2 separate regions of the Homo sapiens genome follow, and region 1 is linked to region 2. Evidence: fine-mapped expression QTL. A gene starts in region 2. The other region holds a variant in brackets. All regions are shown on one strand. Distances are between the middles of the regions.

Region 1 (8,337 bases), 67 kb after region 2:
AGTGTCCTGAATTCCCTCCCACAACCAAATCAAAACCCCTGGCTGGGCTGGGTGTGCGCATGCGCTAGGAACTTAAGGAAACTTTGGAGAAACCTAGCAAGACCATGGCTGGTGCTCTGCTTCCCCAGGTACAGCCTGGGAGAGCCACAGCCTGTGGGAAAAGTCTGCATTTCCAAAGGGTGCCGTGTACATCAGGTTTGGGTACTAATGGGCAGCATGGGCAGAAGTGGGTGCCTGTATAGCCAGGGCCTGAGATAGCCTCATTCTAGCCCACCCTAGCTCTCTCTTGGCTTCAGCAGAGCACAAAGAAGATCTGGAAAGTTCTCAGGGACCAATAAAAGGGATGGCGAAAGTAAAGAAGAATTAAGAATTGAGAAGCCTGCCTGCAAGTGCTCACTGAGACACAAGATGGGGAAACCCTGTAGCAGAAGCCACAGGGAGGTCTGGCCAGGTCTGGGGGTCTCAAGGAGCTTGTGACCATGTCTCAAAGGACCAGTATCACCAGCAAAATCTCAGGTGGCTGGAGTCAGCAGCAGAAGATGGCTGAAGTTGTATTCCATGGGCTGAGAGAACATTCACCAGGTCCACCAGGCTTCACATTGAGGCAAGGAAGGCTATTAAGGCCAGAAGCTGGGGCCCAGAGAACAGCAGCCCAGAGGACCACACACAGGTGCAGAACTCCTCCTCTCTGCTGTGAGGATATTTAAGGCTCTGCTTCCCTCCACTTCAGGTGCCATCTTGAAAAAGAGTAGAAAGCAACTTCTTGAAAAGAGAGAAACAGACTTGGTAGGAACCACTTCAGAATATTTGCCCAAAGGGAACTATTTTGAACTGGAAGAGACTGGGTTCTCTTTTATTGGCATGTCTATTTTTATTTGTGTTTTTCCCCCTACTTCTATGGGGGCTTCAGAGCAGAAGACAATCCATTACTAAAACAAAAGAAGCTCCTTTCTGGTTTTGCACACCTGAACTCTAGTGTGTAAAGCTTAGCCATAACAGAGGATTGAGAAGGGGAAGACTTTCTTGCCTCCATGCCTTGGAAGGAGAGGTGCTCTTCTCCCACCCTGCTGGGAGAGAGAAAGTCAGGGATGGCTCCAAGGATGCCAGCTACTTCTAGGATGTGACTCACTGTCCCTAAGGATACATCACTGTGATAACAAGCCAGAAATATGAGCATTGAGTTGCAGAAAGATGGCTTGAGTCCCTCCCTCCTCCTGATGCTATAGCAGGTTGCAGAAAGAACTGGGAGAGGCACCAGGGATCCTAGCTTATGGATGAAAGAGCTAAGCCAGGGAGTGGCCTCTCCCTGGTTGCTAAACCAACTGAGGGGCTCAACAGGGAGAGTGTGCCCTTGTCCCTGCTTTTGTCAGTTTCCTTACCTGTTACACTGAGACACTTTAGGAGTTGTTAGAGCTGAGGTTTTCAGAAGAGGTCCCAGGCTTGCCAAGTCGACAAGAGGAAAGATTGGAGGGTAGCCCATGGGAACCAATACTGCCTCTGCCATAGGTATGACACAGCTCAAAATCAGCTTGGAGAGCTCTCTGTGTCCAAGTGTGGTCCGGTTCTGCCTATTCTGTTGTCATCTTATATTACTCTTTTATCCCCTTAGACCTGTCACACTAGTCCATGGCTTTTCCAACCAGACCTATTATTTCTTGAGAATTATCTGAAAGTGAAAAGTTAGTTCTAATACTATCTCTTATAATGTACTTGCTAAAAATGCATCCCTAAAAACATGGAGCTTTCTACAATCTATCTATCTATCTATCTATCTATCTATCTATCTATCTATCTATCTATCTCTACCACCCTAGCTACTTCTGTTCTTACTAGCTACTGCTCAGACCCATGCAAGGACTTGAATCACAATTCCCCCCACGAATTCTGCAAATTTCATTTCTGTATGGTCATCACTCTTGTGTGCCTACAATGTGCAAGGCACAGTAGTAGACATTTGAAATATATCTTATTTAATCCTTACAATAGTCATGAGATGAGGGCAATCAGCCCCATTTTACAGAAGAAATGAAAACAGGAAAGGTTAGAAAGTGAGTAATTTGCAAAGGCAGGAGTCAAAAACATGGGTCTATCTTTAACCAAAGCCCATGCTCCTTCCATTATAATGCACTGCTTCCTTATTGCCTGCTCTTACCCCAAAGCTGCGTGTGGCCACACACCAATGCCTTCTCTCCATGCTGCTGCTGTTGCTTCTGCAGCTGCAAAATGAGAGCTCCCATGTAACCCTCTGATTTTTCACTGTCATTTTTGCGGAAAAATAACAACTTCTGGATTAAGTTCAGAACTGAACTGGACTTCACTAACTGGACTGAACTGAAAAAATCTCACTCTTCTTCAGAGACCCTTCATTTCTTGTTTCCATTATCAATTGCATCCACAACAATAGTGAAAACACGTCTGTTTATGTGTATGTGCAATATATATTCCTTTAGGTTGTCGACAAAAAGAAGACATAGAGAGAATTGAAATGTCTAAATGATTATATGACAGTTTATATTATGCCCCATTGCTGTCTCAGGAGAACTGTCCAAATATCAGTTACAGGGAGAAAATGACTTCACCAGAATGTAAATGCAAAACCAGCCAATGCTTTCCAGAATTTTGTCAACATATTTTAAACATCCTAATTATTGGACATATTACAGTTAGTCCATAAGGATGGCAAAGACCATTTTCCTTGTGCATCCTATTTCATCATTTATATTGGTAGAATGTGTACCTTCACTTTTAGAATAACGTCCCAGTTTTGTCCTTCCTGAACTTTTCCCTTCTTGTCACTGGTTATTTCTCTGTATCCTTCAGGTGGTTTTTGCTAAGTTCTTGAGGTATTACTTAATCGTGCCTTTCTGTCTTCCACGTTCTGAAGCAATTGAGAAGTATACAAAGGAATCAGAGGTCCTAATAATAGTGGTAATACTGGCTACCTGGTCTGGTGAATGGAAACTGTCCCTGTGATCTGAATGAGTTTTCTATTCCATACTGAGTTATACTTAGCCACCTTTTCATGGCCACAGCAGCTAAACAACTGGAAGCCTTTCCTCTTGAGGGCAGAGCTTGCCTTGGCAGACTCACCACATGAAAGAGGCAGGAACAGAAGGAAGAACCTATACCAGCTTCAGGCCATCTAACCTAAGAAAGGGAGCCACAGAGAGTATAACACTTAAAAAACCATTGCTGGCCAGGCACGGTGGCTCACGCCTGTAATCCCAGCACTTTGGGAGGCCAAGGCAGGTGGATCATGAGGTCAGGAGTTTGAGACCAGCCTGACCAACATGGTGAAACCCCATTTCTACTAAAAATACAAAAATTAGCTGGGCATGGTGATGCATGCCTGTAATCCCAGCTACTCAGGAGCCTGAGGCAGGAAAATCGCTTGAACCGGGGGGACAGAGGTTGCAGTGAGCCAAGATCGCACCACTGCACTCCCGCCAGGGTGACAGAGCAAGACTCCATCTCAAAACAACAACAGCACCAACAGCAAAAAAAAAAAAA[A/T]ATATATATATATATGTAATATATATATATAAATATTTATATTTATATATTTAGATAAAAAATATTTATATTTTATATATATATATATATATATATATATATATATATATATATATATAGCTACAAATGCCTCCCATCCCTGTATATATGCCCCCGGCAATGTGGGGTTGCTACTGTTCCCATCACTTGCCTTGGCCAATGGAAAGAAGCAGAATGATGTTAAGCAATTTCTGAGCCAAGGTCTAAGTCAAGCAACCTCTGCATTCTTTCTCAAAATTCACCTACCAAGTGAAGAAGCCCAGGCTAGCTAAACCAGTGGAATGGCCATGTGGATAAAAACCAAAGTGCCCCAGCTGACACTTCAGCCAACTGCTAGGCCTGTAAATTACATCATCCAGGATCAGGCAACACCAATCAACATGCCAAGTGACCACAAATATGTGAGTGAACCCAACAAACACCACAGAGAATGGAAATGAACAATCTCAGCTGAACCCTGCCCAAATCACCAGGCCACACCAGTCAGATAAGTCCCTCTGGTATAAGGCTAGACAAGCAATGTAGCTTTAATATTGTTTTCTACAGAATATGAGGCATGGGGTAATATCCCCACTCAAGAGTTACGAATTCTACTGCTGTCGTGTATGCCAATGCCTTCCATAGGCACTAGAAAGGCACTTTAACCATTGACCATTATTCAAGGATCCATTGAAAAGTAGAGTATATGTTTCCTATTGCTGCCATAACAGATTGCCACAAACTTGGCGGCTTAAAATGAAACAAATTGATTATGTTATATTTCTAGAGGTCAGAAGTCTGAAATGGGTTCACTGGGCTAACATCAAGGTGTCAGCAAGGACACCTTGCTTCCTTCTGGAGGCTCTGGGGGTAAATCCTTTCTCTTGTGATTTCCAGCTGCCAGAGGCTCCATATATCCCTTGACTTATGACACTCTTCCATCTTCAAAGCCAGCAATGGCCAGCTGAGTCTTTCTCAGCCACTCTGACTTTTCTACCTTCCTTTTCCACATTTAAGGACCCTTGTGATTACATTGATCCCATCTGGATAATCCAGGATGCTCTCTCTATTTTAAAGTCAGCCGATTAACAACCTTAATTTCGTCTCCAACCTGCATTTCCCTTTGCCATATAACATAACATATTCACAGGTTCCAGGGATTAGGTCAGGGCATCAGCAATAGGAAACATATACTCTACTTTTCAATGGATCCTTAAATAATGGTCAATGGTTAAAGTGCCTTTCTAGTGCCTATGGAAGGCATTAGCATACACGATAGCAGCAGAATTCATAACTTTGGGGTGTGAGGGCATTATCTTATCTACCACAAATAGTGATCTCAGAAAGAGTAGCATCATACTACTCAGGAAAAATTAACGCTCAGTTCTTTTTTTTTTTTTTAGACAGGGTCTCTCGTTCTGTCACCCAGGCTGAGTGCAGTGGTGCGATCACAGCTCACTGCAACCTCAACCTCCAGGACTCATGGGATCCTCCCACCTCAGCTTCCCAAGTAGCTGGCACTCCAGGCATGCGCCACTATGCCTAGCTAGTTTTTTATTTTTTGTAGAGACAGAATTTCACTATGTTGCCCAGGCTGGTCTTGAACTCCTGGACGCAAGCAATCCTCTTGCCTCAGCCGCCCAAGGTGCTGGGATTACAAGCATAAGCTGCTGCAGCCAGTTACACCCAGTTCTTTACTTCCACCTCGCCTAACAGTTTCTAAGTGCTCTAAAAGTAGGGATAATAAGAAGTCATATTTCATGGTATGTTTTGGAGTTGATAATATAAGACAGACATGGAACCTTGTTGAAAACAAAATACATTTTATCTCTTGCTTCACTCTAATAGCCCTGTGAAGGCCAAGTTGACAGACTGTCCAGCTTCCCTCTCAATCATGTTGCCTGGAGACTGTCACCAATGCAGGCCTCATTGAGAGAGAAGCAATGTGTCTCAATCTGTCAGATGCTACAAGATTTCTGAAGGCAACGGCAGGGAGAGCACTCAACTTCCTGTTTCCATCGGTCTACTGAGTGGTGGGAAAGAAGTAGTACAGCAGCCTCCCTTGCCAGAAGCCAGAGAAGGAGATGGATGGATTAAATAATACAGAACTCTTCTGCCTGCTTGGCCATTTTCTTCTTGTAATTGAATGCTAAAAAGATGACTTAAAAAAAGAACAATTTGTCCCACAAAGGTGCATGCATATCTGTTAAACGGTACAAGACACAAAGGGTCATCCCTACAAATGTGATGTGCATTCATTCACTCTAGGCCCCATACCTTTAAAAAGTGAGAGTGTCCTTTCCCTACTCTATGTTTTTGTTTGCTTTGTTGAAGATTAGTTGGCTATAAGTATTTGGGTTTATTTCTGAGTTCTCTATTCTGTTCCATTGGTCTATGTGCCTATTTTTATACCAGTACCGTGCTGTTTTGGTGATATAGCCTTATAATATAGTTTGAAATCTGGTAATGTGATGCCTCCAGACTTTTTCTTTTTACTTAGTCTTGCTTTGGCTATGCAGGCTCTTTTTTGTTTCCATGTGAATTTTAGGATTTTTTTTTTCCAGTTCTGTGAAGAATGATGGTGGTATTTTGAGGGAAATTGCATTGAATTTGTAGATGGCTTTTAGCAGTAAGGTCATTTTCACAGTATTGATTCTACCCATCTATGAGCATGGAATATGTTTTCATTTGTTTGTGTCATCTGTGATTTCTTTCAGCAGCGTTTTGTAGTTGTCCTTGTAGAGGTCTTTTACCTCCTCAGTTAAGTATAGTCCTAAGTATTTTACTTATTTATTTTTTTGCAACTACTGTAAAAGAGGTTGAGTTCTTGATTTGATTCTCAGCTTAGCCACTGTTGGTGTATAGCAGAGCAACTGATTTGTGTACATTAAGCATGTATCCTGAAGCTTTGCTGAATTCATTTATCAGTTCTAAGAGCTTTTTGGAGGAGTCTTTAGTGTTTTCTAAGTATACAATCATATCATCAGCAAACAGTGTACAGTTTGACTTCCTCTTTACTGATTTGGATGCCCTTTATTTCTTTCCCTTGTCTGATTGCTCTGGCTAGGACTTTCAGTACTATGTTGGATAGAAGTGGTCAGAGCGGGCACCCAGTCTTGTTTCACTTTTCAGAGGGAATGCTTTCAACTTTTCCCCATTCAGTATTATGGTGGCTGTGGGGTTGTCACAGATGGCTTTTATTACGTTGAGGTATGTCCCTTGTATGTCGATGTTGCTGAGGGTTTTAATCATAAAGGAATGCTGGATTTTGTCAAGTGCTTTCTCTGCATCTATTGAGATGATCATGTGATTTTTGTTTTTAATTCTGTTTATGTGGTGTATCACATTCATTGACTTGCGCATGTTAAACCATCCCTGCAACCCTGGTATGAAACCCATTTGATCATCGTAGATTATCTTTTTTGTATGCTGTTGGATTCGGTTAGCAGGTATTTTGCTAAGTATTTTTGCATCTATGTTCATCAGGAATATTGGTCTATAGTTTCTTTTTTTTGTTATGTCCTTTCCTGGTTTGGGTATTAGGGTGATACTGACTTCATAGAGTGATTTAGGGAGGATTACCTCTTTATCTTGTGGAATAGTGTCAACAGGATTGGTACCAAGTCTTCTCTGAATGTTTGGTAAAATTCAGCTGTGAATCTATCTGGTCCTGGACTCTGTTTTTGGCAATTTTTTAAATCACCATTTCAACCTCACTGCTTGTTATTTGTCTGTTCAGTGTGGTGCTGGGATAATTGGCAAGCCACATGTAGGAAAATGAAACTGGATCTTCATATCTCACCTTACACAAAAATCAATTCAAGATGGATCAAGGACTTAAATCTAAGACCTGAAACAGTAAAAATTCCAGAAAACCCCTTTTAGACATTGGCTTAGGCAAAGATTTCATGACCAGGAACCCAAAAGCAAATGCAACAAAAACAAAAATAAATAGGTGGGGCTTAATTAAAGAGCTTTTGCACAGTAAAAGAAACAGTCAGCAGAGTAAACAGACAACCCACAGAGTGGGAGAAAATCTTCACAATCTATACATCTGACAAAAGACTCTACAGGAATTTTACGAGGAATCTACGAGGAACTCAAACAAATCAGCAAGAAAAAACAAACAAACAATCCCATCAAAAAGTGGGCTAAGGACATGAATGGACAATTCTCAAAAGAAGATATGCAAATGGCCAACAAACATATGAAAAAATGCTCAGCATCACTAATGATCAGGGAAATGCAAATCAAAATCACAACGAAATACCACCTTACTCCTGCAAGAAGGACCATAATCAAAAAATTAAACAACAATAGATGTTGGCGTGGATGCTGCGAAAAGGTAACACTTCTTTTTTTTTTATTTCTTTTTTTTAAACAGAGTTTTGCTCTTGTTGCCCAGGCTGGAGGGCAATGGTGCAGTGTTGGCTCACTGCAACCTCCGCCTCCTGGGTTTAAGCAATTCTCCTGTCTCAGCCTCCCAAGTAGCTGGGACTACAGGCACCCACCACCACACGGGGTTAATTTTTGTATTTTTAGTAGAGATGGGGTTTCAGCAACACTGCTGATGGGAATGTAAACTAGTACAACCACTGTGGAAAACAATGTGGAGATTCCTTAAAGAACTAAAAATAGAACTACTCTTTGATCCAGCAATCCCATGACTGGGTATCTACCCAAAGGAAAAGAAGTCATTATACAAAAAAGATACTTGCACATGCATGTTTATAGCAGCACAATTCACAATTGCAAAAATGTGGAACCAGCCCAAATGCCCATCAACAACTGGATAAAGAAAATGTGAGA
Region 2 (8,308 bases):
GTAGCTGGGACTACAGGCGCCTGCCACCACGCCCAGCTAATTTTTTGTATTTTTAGTAGAGACAGGGTTTCACTGTGTTAGCCAGGATGGCCTCGATCTCCTGACCTCGTGATCTGCCCGCCCTGGCCTCCCAAAGTGCTGGGATTATAGGCATGAGCCACTGCGCCTGCCTCAAATCGTTTTTAAGTGCATGGTTCAGTGGCATAAGTACATTCATACTATTGTGCAACCATCACCACCATCTATCTCCAGAACTTTTTGCTATTCCACATTGAAACTCTGTACCCATCAAATAATAACTCCCATTCCATCTTCTCCTGGGCCCTGGCAATTACCACCCTACTTTCTGTCTACATGAATTTGACTATTCTAAGTACCTCATATAAGTGGCATCACAGAACATTTGTCTTTTTGTGTCTGGCTTCTTTCACTTAGCATAAGGTCTTAAGGTTCATCTGTGTTATAGCACGTATCAGAATATCCTTTATTTTTAAGGCTGAATAATATTCCGTCGTAGGTGTATACTGTATCTTGTTTATCAATGGACATTCGGGTTGTTTCCACCTTTTGGCTATTGGGAATAATGCTGCTATGAACATTGATGTAAACATATCTAATCAAGTCCCTGCTTTCAATTCTTTTGTGTATACACCCAGAAATTGAATTGCTAAATCAAATGGTAATTCTATGTTCAATTTTTGGGGGAACCATACTTGTATATCCTTAAACCTCTGTGTATCATAGAACCTCTCTGAACCTCATCTGTAAAACACGGATAATAACAGCAATGCCATTTCAGGGTGGTCTGAGAATTAATGCATATGAAGCCTTTGGCTCAAAGACTGGACACATTAATAAATGTTCACTAAATGTTTGCTTGATGTTTAATCTCTTCATCCTCTGAATTGAGGGACTCATACTAAAATAATTTCTAAAGTCACTCTCAGCTCCTAAACTCCATGATCCCATCATTAAATTATTTTCCTGTTGGGGATGCCAGGAGCTCTCAGATTGTATATTAGGGGAACACCCTCTTCATGATCCCCGCAAAAATCCACCCGTGCCAAGAAGGCCCAATTTTCCTAGCTTTCTCCTAGGAATTTGCCAACATATCCCAGTGTAATCTCACATCTCATTTTTCTTGCCACTCCTTCTCCCTTGCTTTCTTTCCATGTTTCCTTTCTCGGCTGGCTTTTCCTGCCCACTGAATATCTGCACTTCAAATTATCTTCCCTGGTTGCATTTATGTTCATTCCCCACAAGTTAATGTCTGTTGGAAGCAACACTTGTGAAGTTCTCCAGATTAAGTTTTCATTCCCAAGAGTCCCATATTTTAAATGAGGTTTTCCTCTTCGGCAGAATCACACTGGCAGAGCTACCGCAATTTGGTGAAGTCAGTGGAGTTGGGTTTCTCCCCTCATTCTGTTTATGTTGGGTTATCGCTTGGCCTCATGTTTGGATTCTCATCCTCCCAACATGTGTCACATGCCAGTGAGAAACAACACTCTCTGGTACCATCCCAGTGGATGTTTACAATTCAGCAAATACTCTTTTTAGAAAAGTTAATTAGAGGAAATACGCTTCCAAGCTTTTCTTGCCTGGGGCCAGATTCAGCATCCCAGCAGGGAGTGGACTTCCTTCACTCCTTGAGGAAATATTTTCCTTCTCCACGCTATTCCTCCGTCTTCCCTCGAAATGTGAGTAAAACATTCAACAACTAAAATATCCTTGCTAAACACATGAAGCTGCGCTCTGGTTCAGGCAGCAGTTTAGCTACCAACAAACTGCGTATCCTCTCTGAAGCTTTTTCACAGCCAAAGGTAAAAGAGGTTCTCGGGTCAGAAATAAATGGATTTTTCAGATTCTGGGCTAGGAAAAAGAGCCAGCTCAGGTTTTTTTATTTTCTTTTAAACTTTTATGGCTTTGAAGCGCCTCACCTGCCATGTAATAAAACAGGAAGCAGGGGAACGCTGATGTAACCCTGAGGAATCAAATCCACTGAGCCCTGGCACTCTGAGAAGAACCAGGTCCTCTGGAGCTGGTCCACCGACACCATGCAAAGGCGAAGATGAAGTAGGGAGGTGCCTTAATGCAAAGTCACCCACTTACCCCTAGGCAAGTGTTTAGGTTTATGGATTGTCAGCCCTTATGAAGGGCTCCTTCTTCCTTTATTATTGTCTTTGGGCTGCTCCAGACACCATGGAGGCAAAATTCAAATGAAACACTCACCATCTTTATTGTAAATCATTAAGGAAGATCCTACCTGGGCAGGCAGGCTCTAGGTAGATGGAAAGTATTGACCAAAATGAAGGGCAGGGGGGTTTGTGTATCTCAGCTTTTCGTTGATCATGAAGGGATGTGCCTATGGCTAAGTTTCCCTTCTACACAGGTTATTGCATTTAGTATCCTCCCCACCCGACCTGGCCTGTTTCATTCTCAGGCACTTGCCAGCTACTTGCAGCGGCAGAGCACCCAGCTCTCAGATAGAGTTCAGGTGACAGGTAACCAGCACAGAAGGGAAGCAGCGAAGGCTCGTACATAACCTGCCCCTATTCAGAGCTGCCCCGTTTGGTCATTTCTGTACATCTCGGCCTGCCCTCATCTCATGAGGTCTCACTTTACCCCCTGGGCCATAGAAGGACAGATGTTCCTATGACGTTCCCACTTCCCCGCCTGCCAGCAAGCAGGATCTGCCATGTCCTCGCTTCTGCCCTTAGCTGGATCTCCGTATCATGTCCCAGCCTCATTTGTCCCCAGAAGCCCATTTGACCTGGGGATTGTGGCTTAGAAAATGATATATGAAAACCAAAGAAGCCAGAGCTCTTTCAAAACAAACCCTATGCATCCCAGAAACAATCTGCACTTTTAACCTTGGCTTTTTCTTCTTTCTCACTCTCATCAGAAAGGAAGTGTGTCTATATATGCTGAGTGAGTCAATCTCCTGTGCTTGGATCTACTCCGAAGGGGTATGGCTGTAGGAGTTCGTGAAGCAAGATTCACCAGAAGAACACCAAGCAAGCCCTGCTCTTTATTCCTTTCTTTCTTTCCCTCTCTTCTTTCTTTCTTGCTCACCTCTGAGGGAGCCCTTTCCAAGAGAAACTTCGCTTTTGCAAGTCAGAGCGGGTAACTCAGAATTGATTCCCTAAGGCAATTTGGTACTTTTAAAATGATAAAAAGAGCAAATAAAATAGGAGCTGGTCCGCTTTCCTGAGACAGTACAGCCCCACGATTTGGGATGACAAAACCACGTCACAGTCTCAGGGAGGGCCACAGGAGCTCCAGCACCACCAGCCAAGTCCCTAAAATTATCACTGGAAAAGCACCACCCCCCCTCAACCCCTCACCCCAAACACACACAGCCCACCTCCTGAGACTCCCAGTCCTGCTCCCAGGCAGACCCCAGGAGGAAAATGCTCCCTCCTAGGGTGTCCTCCTAGGGTGTCCCGGACGCTACTCACAGTACCTCTTGGCAAGGACGAGATGAGAAGGAGCTGAAGAAAAGTGAGCCCCAACTGCGTCCAGCAACCCAGCTCCATCCTTGCCGCGGCTGGTGCCCGAGCGTCTACTGGGGAGGGAGAGGAGGGACCCAGGGAGGCCGGGGGCAGGCGGGTTTTACAGGGACCTCCCCGAGCCCCAGCTGAGCGGGAGCTCGGGTTTCAGCTCGCCAGGCTCTCCCATCCTCATCTGAGGGGAACCACCTTCAGCCAGAGCGACGTCAGCCCAAACCTCTCCTCTCTGCTGCCTTAACCCTTGCGGGGCCCCGGGAGGTGTGGCCACGCCTGGAGACCCGCGGACGGCGGCTGCAAAGGAAGCTGCGGGGGAGGGAGGCCAGCCTGGGTACAGGTGGGGTCCCAGTGTTGGGTGCTGGGAGGAGGGGCCATAGGACCCTGGGCGGGAGCAGAGGTACCCAGGGCTGCGGGGCGCTCAGGTGAGGCCGGGAGATCTTCCTACGGGAGGCTGAGACGGGAGCTGGCTTTGCCCTCTCTGACTGCACGCGGGGAGCCTGATTAAAAGCCTGGCCTGAGGAGAAGGAGGAGTTGGTGATGGGAGGAGAAAGGGAGCCTCCCTCCACTCCGCACGCAACACTCCTCGTTTATCTCCTTTCCTCTCCGTTTGCTCCAGGTGATCACAGGTTGGAAAGCTTATTATCTTTTGCAACTACAGGCTACTGGAAAAAGTTTTCCTCTTCCTATGATCCCCGTCATGGTGAATTCAGCGACATAAGCAGCTCCTGAGCTACTGGAAAAAGTTTTCCTCTTCCTGTGATCCCCACGATGGTGAATTCAGCAACATAAATAGCTCCTGCGCACACGCCAGGCAGGGATGGCGAAGAACACACAAGAACCCTCACTGCCTCCACCAAAAGGGCTCAGTTTAGGTACAAGATAGCAAGTGACATCTCGAAATGAGGAAGAAGGATGTTTCATAATAGGTGACTTTTTAAAATAAACTCCTCCGTGCCAGGTGTCATGTACCTTACATGTATTAACTCAATTATTCCTCACAATAAACCTAGCCTCTGTATTTTACAATTAGAGAAACGGAACCATTGAGGATTACAATAACTCATCCAAGGCCACACAGTTAGTGAGGGGCAGAGCCAGGGTTTGAACCCGGGCAGCTTAGGCCCACAGGCTATAGTCTTAGCCACTAGGCTATAGAGCTTCTTAGGATGCTACATATGCAGAATTGTATTTCACCATTTGATATGGCTTCGCTGTGTCCCCACCCAAACCTCATCTTGAATTGTGGTTCCCATAAACCCCACGTGTCATGGGAGGGACCAGGTGGAGATAATTGAATCATGGGGACAGTTACCCCCATAAAAGTTTTAATTTTGTTCTCTAGATGTTGGCGGGCCCTGGTGGTTTACAAGTAGGGTGTGCTGAGCTCAAAGCAAAGTCTCGGGAAGAGAAGTCACCCTGGACTATTGATGAAGGCCTGGAGTAAGGATTAAGAAATGGAAGTGGAAGGGAAAAGATAAGGGGAGAAACCTGAGGAAGGTAGAATCTGTAAAGCTCAGGACAGATCAGAAGGTCAGGAGCCCTGACACAGGTGCTCTACTAGAAAGAATTTCTGAACTCCAGCCCTGCTTCTGGGGGCCTATTGCAGTGAAGTGACTGGAAGCAAGAACTCAGCAGGCCTGTGTTCTAATTTTGTTGATTCACCACTTTCTGGCTGTGTGACCTTAAGCAAGTTAACTCTCTGAATCTCAGTCTTCTCATCTATAAAATGGAAATAATAATCAAACCTACTTTGTAGATCACTGGAAGAATTTAATAAGATTACGCATGTAAGGCCCATAGCACAGAGCCTACCACATATTAAGTGCACACTAAATATTAATCATTATCTCTATTATCTGACCTGAGACTGCCCCCAAGAACATCTCATGGTATGAGTCTTGTTCCTACACTCAACTTCCATATCGAGATGAAATCAGTTAAAATAAGCACCAAGAGTAGCCTTAAACAGGAGCAGAATACCAGAGGGCAGCATATACCTAAGAGGTAGAGGGCAGAGGTTCGAAGAAGGGAGGTTCACCTTGTTGCTGGCCAACCAGTCCTGGTCCTTTGGTGATGGGAGTGGGAAGAAGATGACTTAGTTCCCAAATAACTGTAGGCATAAGAGCCTCTCAGGAGTCTGTTTCAACTCCAGCTGACGGCACCTGAGCTTTACAGATTCTACCTTCCTCAGGTTTCTCCCCTTATCTTTTCCCTTCCACTTCCATTTCTTAATCTTTACTCCAGGCCTTCATCAATAGTCCAGGGTGACTTCTCTTCCCAAGACTTTGCTTCGAGCTCAGCACACCTTACTCCTAAACCACCAGGGCCCACCAACATCTAGAGAACAAAATGAAAACTTTTATGGGGGTAACTGTCCCCATGATTCAACTATCTCCACCTGGTCCTTCCCATGACACGTGGGGTTTCTTTTCATCTTCCCTCTCCCCACCTCCCAGCCCCCACCACACACACCTCTCTGAGTCAATACCAAGCAGCCTCATCCCTACATGAATTGCATCCCCCTGACAGAATGGGGCTCTAAGTGATGAACCTGAAGGATAGCAGTCTATACCACCCCCAAATATGCCCCTTTGGCATAAGGATTATTTTGAGCTGAAAGCAGTTAAGAAGAAGTAGATACAAGAATAGGTCTCTGTTCTCCCCCCATTTTCCTAAAAGCAGACTTGAATTTATAAAAGTATAGTGTCTCCACCTCCCCTCTCTACCAGGACGGACAGAAGTTAATCATTGGAGACAACCCTAGACCCTTATCAGCCCAGAGGAATCTACATACCAAAACTTACTAACTAGTCTTATCTCCCATTAGGACCCCCATTTATTTATCTTCCCATAATTTGCTACCCCTAGAAGCTCAAAGTCCTTTTTGTTTGTCTTGCCACTTCTCTGCAAATTTATTGTTCTTTTTAAAAATGCAATATGAACCCAAATTCTAACCATCTCTTTGAGTTACTCCTCACTAGGTATTTCAACATGTAAGCACCATGCACAAGTTAATAAAAAACTTTTGTTTGTTTTTCTCTTGTTAATCTGTTTTTTCTTTTTTTTGTCATTCTAATTTACAGGGCCACAGCCAAGGAATCTAAGATGGGTAGGGAAGAAAGATTATTTTTCCTTCCCAACAAACCTGTTTGGCTATTTGCTAAGGAAGTCCCTGGTACCAGGTCTTTACTTCTCTAGGTTCAGGGGTCTGGAAACAGAGGCCCTTCTTCTGTTTCTGGAATCCCCTTCAAGAGTTGATTTGTTAGTTTGTTGTCACTAATTTGGGTTTGTAAATTTCCTAGAGCTGAGGACCTGGAAAGAAACTCTCAAAAAGATGCTCTGCAAAGGTGGAGGATGTATTTTTCTGGAGAAGTCAAAGCAGTAATCAGATATTACCTTGTTGAACTGCACAATAATCCCAGGGCTGGAAGAGAAAGAGGAGAACTGTTATTATGACACAGAAAAGTCAGTAGTTTACTGAGGACATTCAGCCCTACACAAATTTCTGTTTTCCTACACAAGTTTACCTTTCTCTGTCCCCATTATGGTCAACTGCATTTTTCATATTGATAGAGTTTAGTATTGTTCTAAATCAAGGATTCTTAATCTGGAAGCTCCTGGTTGAGATGGGGTTTTTTGAGGGACTTTGAATCTTCCAAAATCATATGCAAATTTTTGCATGCAGGTTTTTGAATAAGAGGGAGCCATAGCCTTCTCATTTGCAAACTCCCAACTTTTTTAGAATCACTAATCTTCGTAAGTTAAAATTGAAAAATGGACCAAATATTTCTCAGATTTGGGGAAAGTGATTTTGTGAATATATACAATCATTGAGTCTAGGCTATAAACTGCACAGTGGACATTTGGAGGGCCCTCTCACCTCCTCCTCACCTTTAAAAAACTATTTCTGACTTAAGAGCACTTGCTCTGGACCATACTGACTAATGTTGAATGCAGATGGACCACTCGCTACCTGTGTACACTTGGGCATGTTATTTCACATATGATGGCCTTGGTTTCCTCATCTGTTAAGTCTGAAGAATAGTACCTGTTGCCATTAGGGCTAGAGTAAAGAGCTCAAAACAGTGCCTAAAATATACTAAGATATCAGTAAATGTTAACTGTTTCTGTGATGCTTATCTCCCCCTCTGCCCTCACCTCCTACCACTGCTTGCTTCGGGGAGAATAAATCACAAGAAAGGCTGTGTATGAAAAAGACAAAGTGGCATGCTGGGAGATAGGGCATGATACCTGGAATTAAGAATTATCTACTAATAATCAGCATCAGGAATAAAAAATTGGCTGTAATAGACAGAGTCAGGCCACCCATTTAATTACAAGTCATAATACCCACTAATTTTCACATGGTACCTTTTTCAGTGCCACCAGGGAGGCTGGTTGCATGTGAATCCACAGGGAGAAACAGCAGAGGAGACTGTCTTTGTGAATTCTTACAGTTCCCTCTATCTCCCAGCTATCACTTCTGCAGATCAGCAGCTAAGCAGCAACCACACACTGGGAAAGCCAGAGGAAACAGGCCAGAGGTAGAACTGGTCTGCAAACCTATAAGAGGCATCCCAGACTTCTGGTAATTAAGTTTGGTTTCCATCAGCTGTGCAAAACACCAAGTTCAAGTCAGCCAAGGCCAGAGATGGAGAAGGGCAGGATTGTGGAAAAGACAAAGGGCCCTTCCACTGGAGCCTGCTGTAACTGGCCCCTTCATGGAAGTCTCCAGCCCTAATGAATCCCGGCTGTTCACCTACACAATGAGCAATCATGTTCTGCCTCAGGTCTGGCTCAGC

Which allele goes with the higher level. Positions count from the first base shown, and alleles are read on the strand shown. Sizes are in standard deviations (SD) of each study's normalised expression.
With allele A in place of T in region 1, the expression in damaged cartilage of the gene that starts at base 3,567 in region 2 is lower (large effect, 0.84 SD a copy in Steinberg 2020).

What was found. PIP is the estimated chance that this variant, and not a neighbour inherited with it, causes the effect.
Region 1: its variant is fine-mapped to the expression of PAMR1 in damaged cartilage (Steinberg 2020, PIP 0.95).

Annotation. Positions count from the first base shown.
Region 1 is chr11:35,589,434-35,597,770 of GRCh38, forward strand. No RefSeq gene overlaps it. Among named protein-coding and RNA genes, the nearest start is that of FJX1, 25 kb to the right of the region's middle. The variant A/T (reference allele first, on the strand shown) is at 3,511.
Region 2 is chr11:35,522,050-35,530,357 of GRCh38, forward strand. PAMR1 (peptidase domain containing associated with muscle regeneration 1) reads right to left here and starts at 3,567. Exons shown (of 11, transcript NM_001001991.3): 1 at 3,464-3,567. The coding sequence starts at 3,536.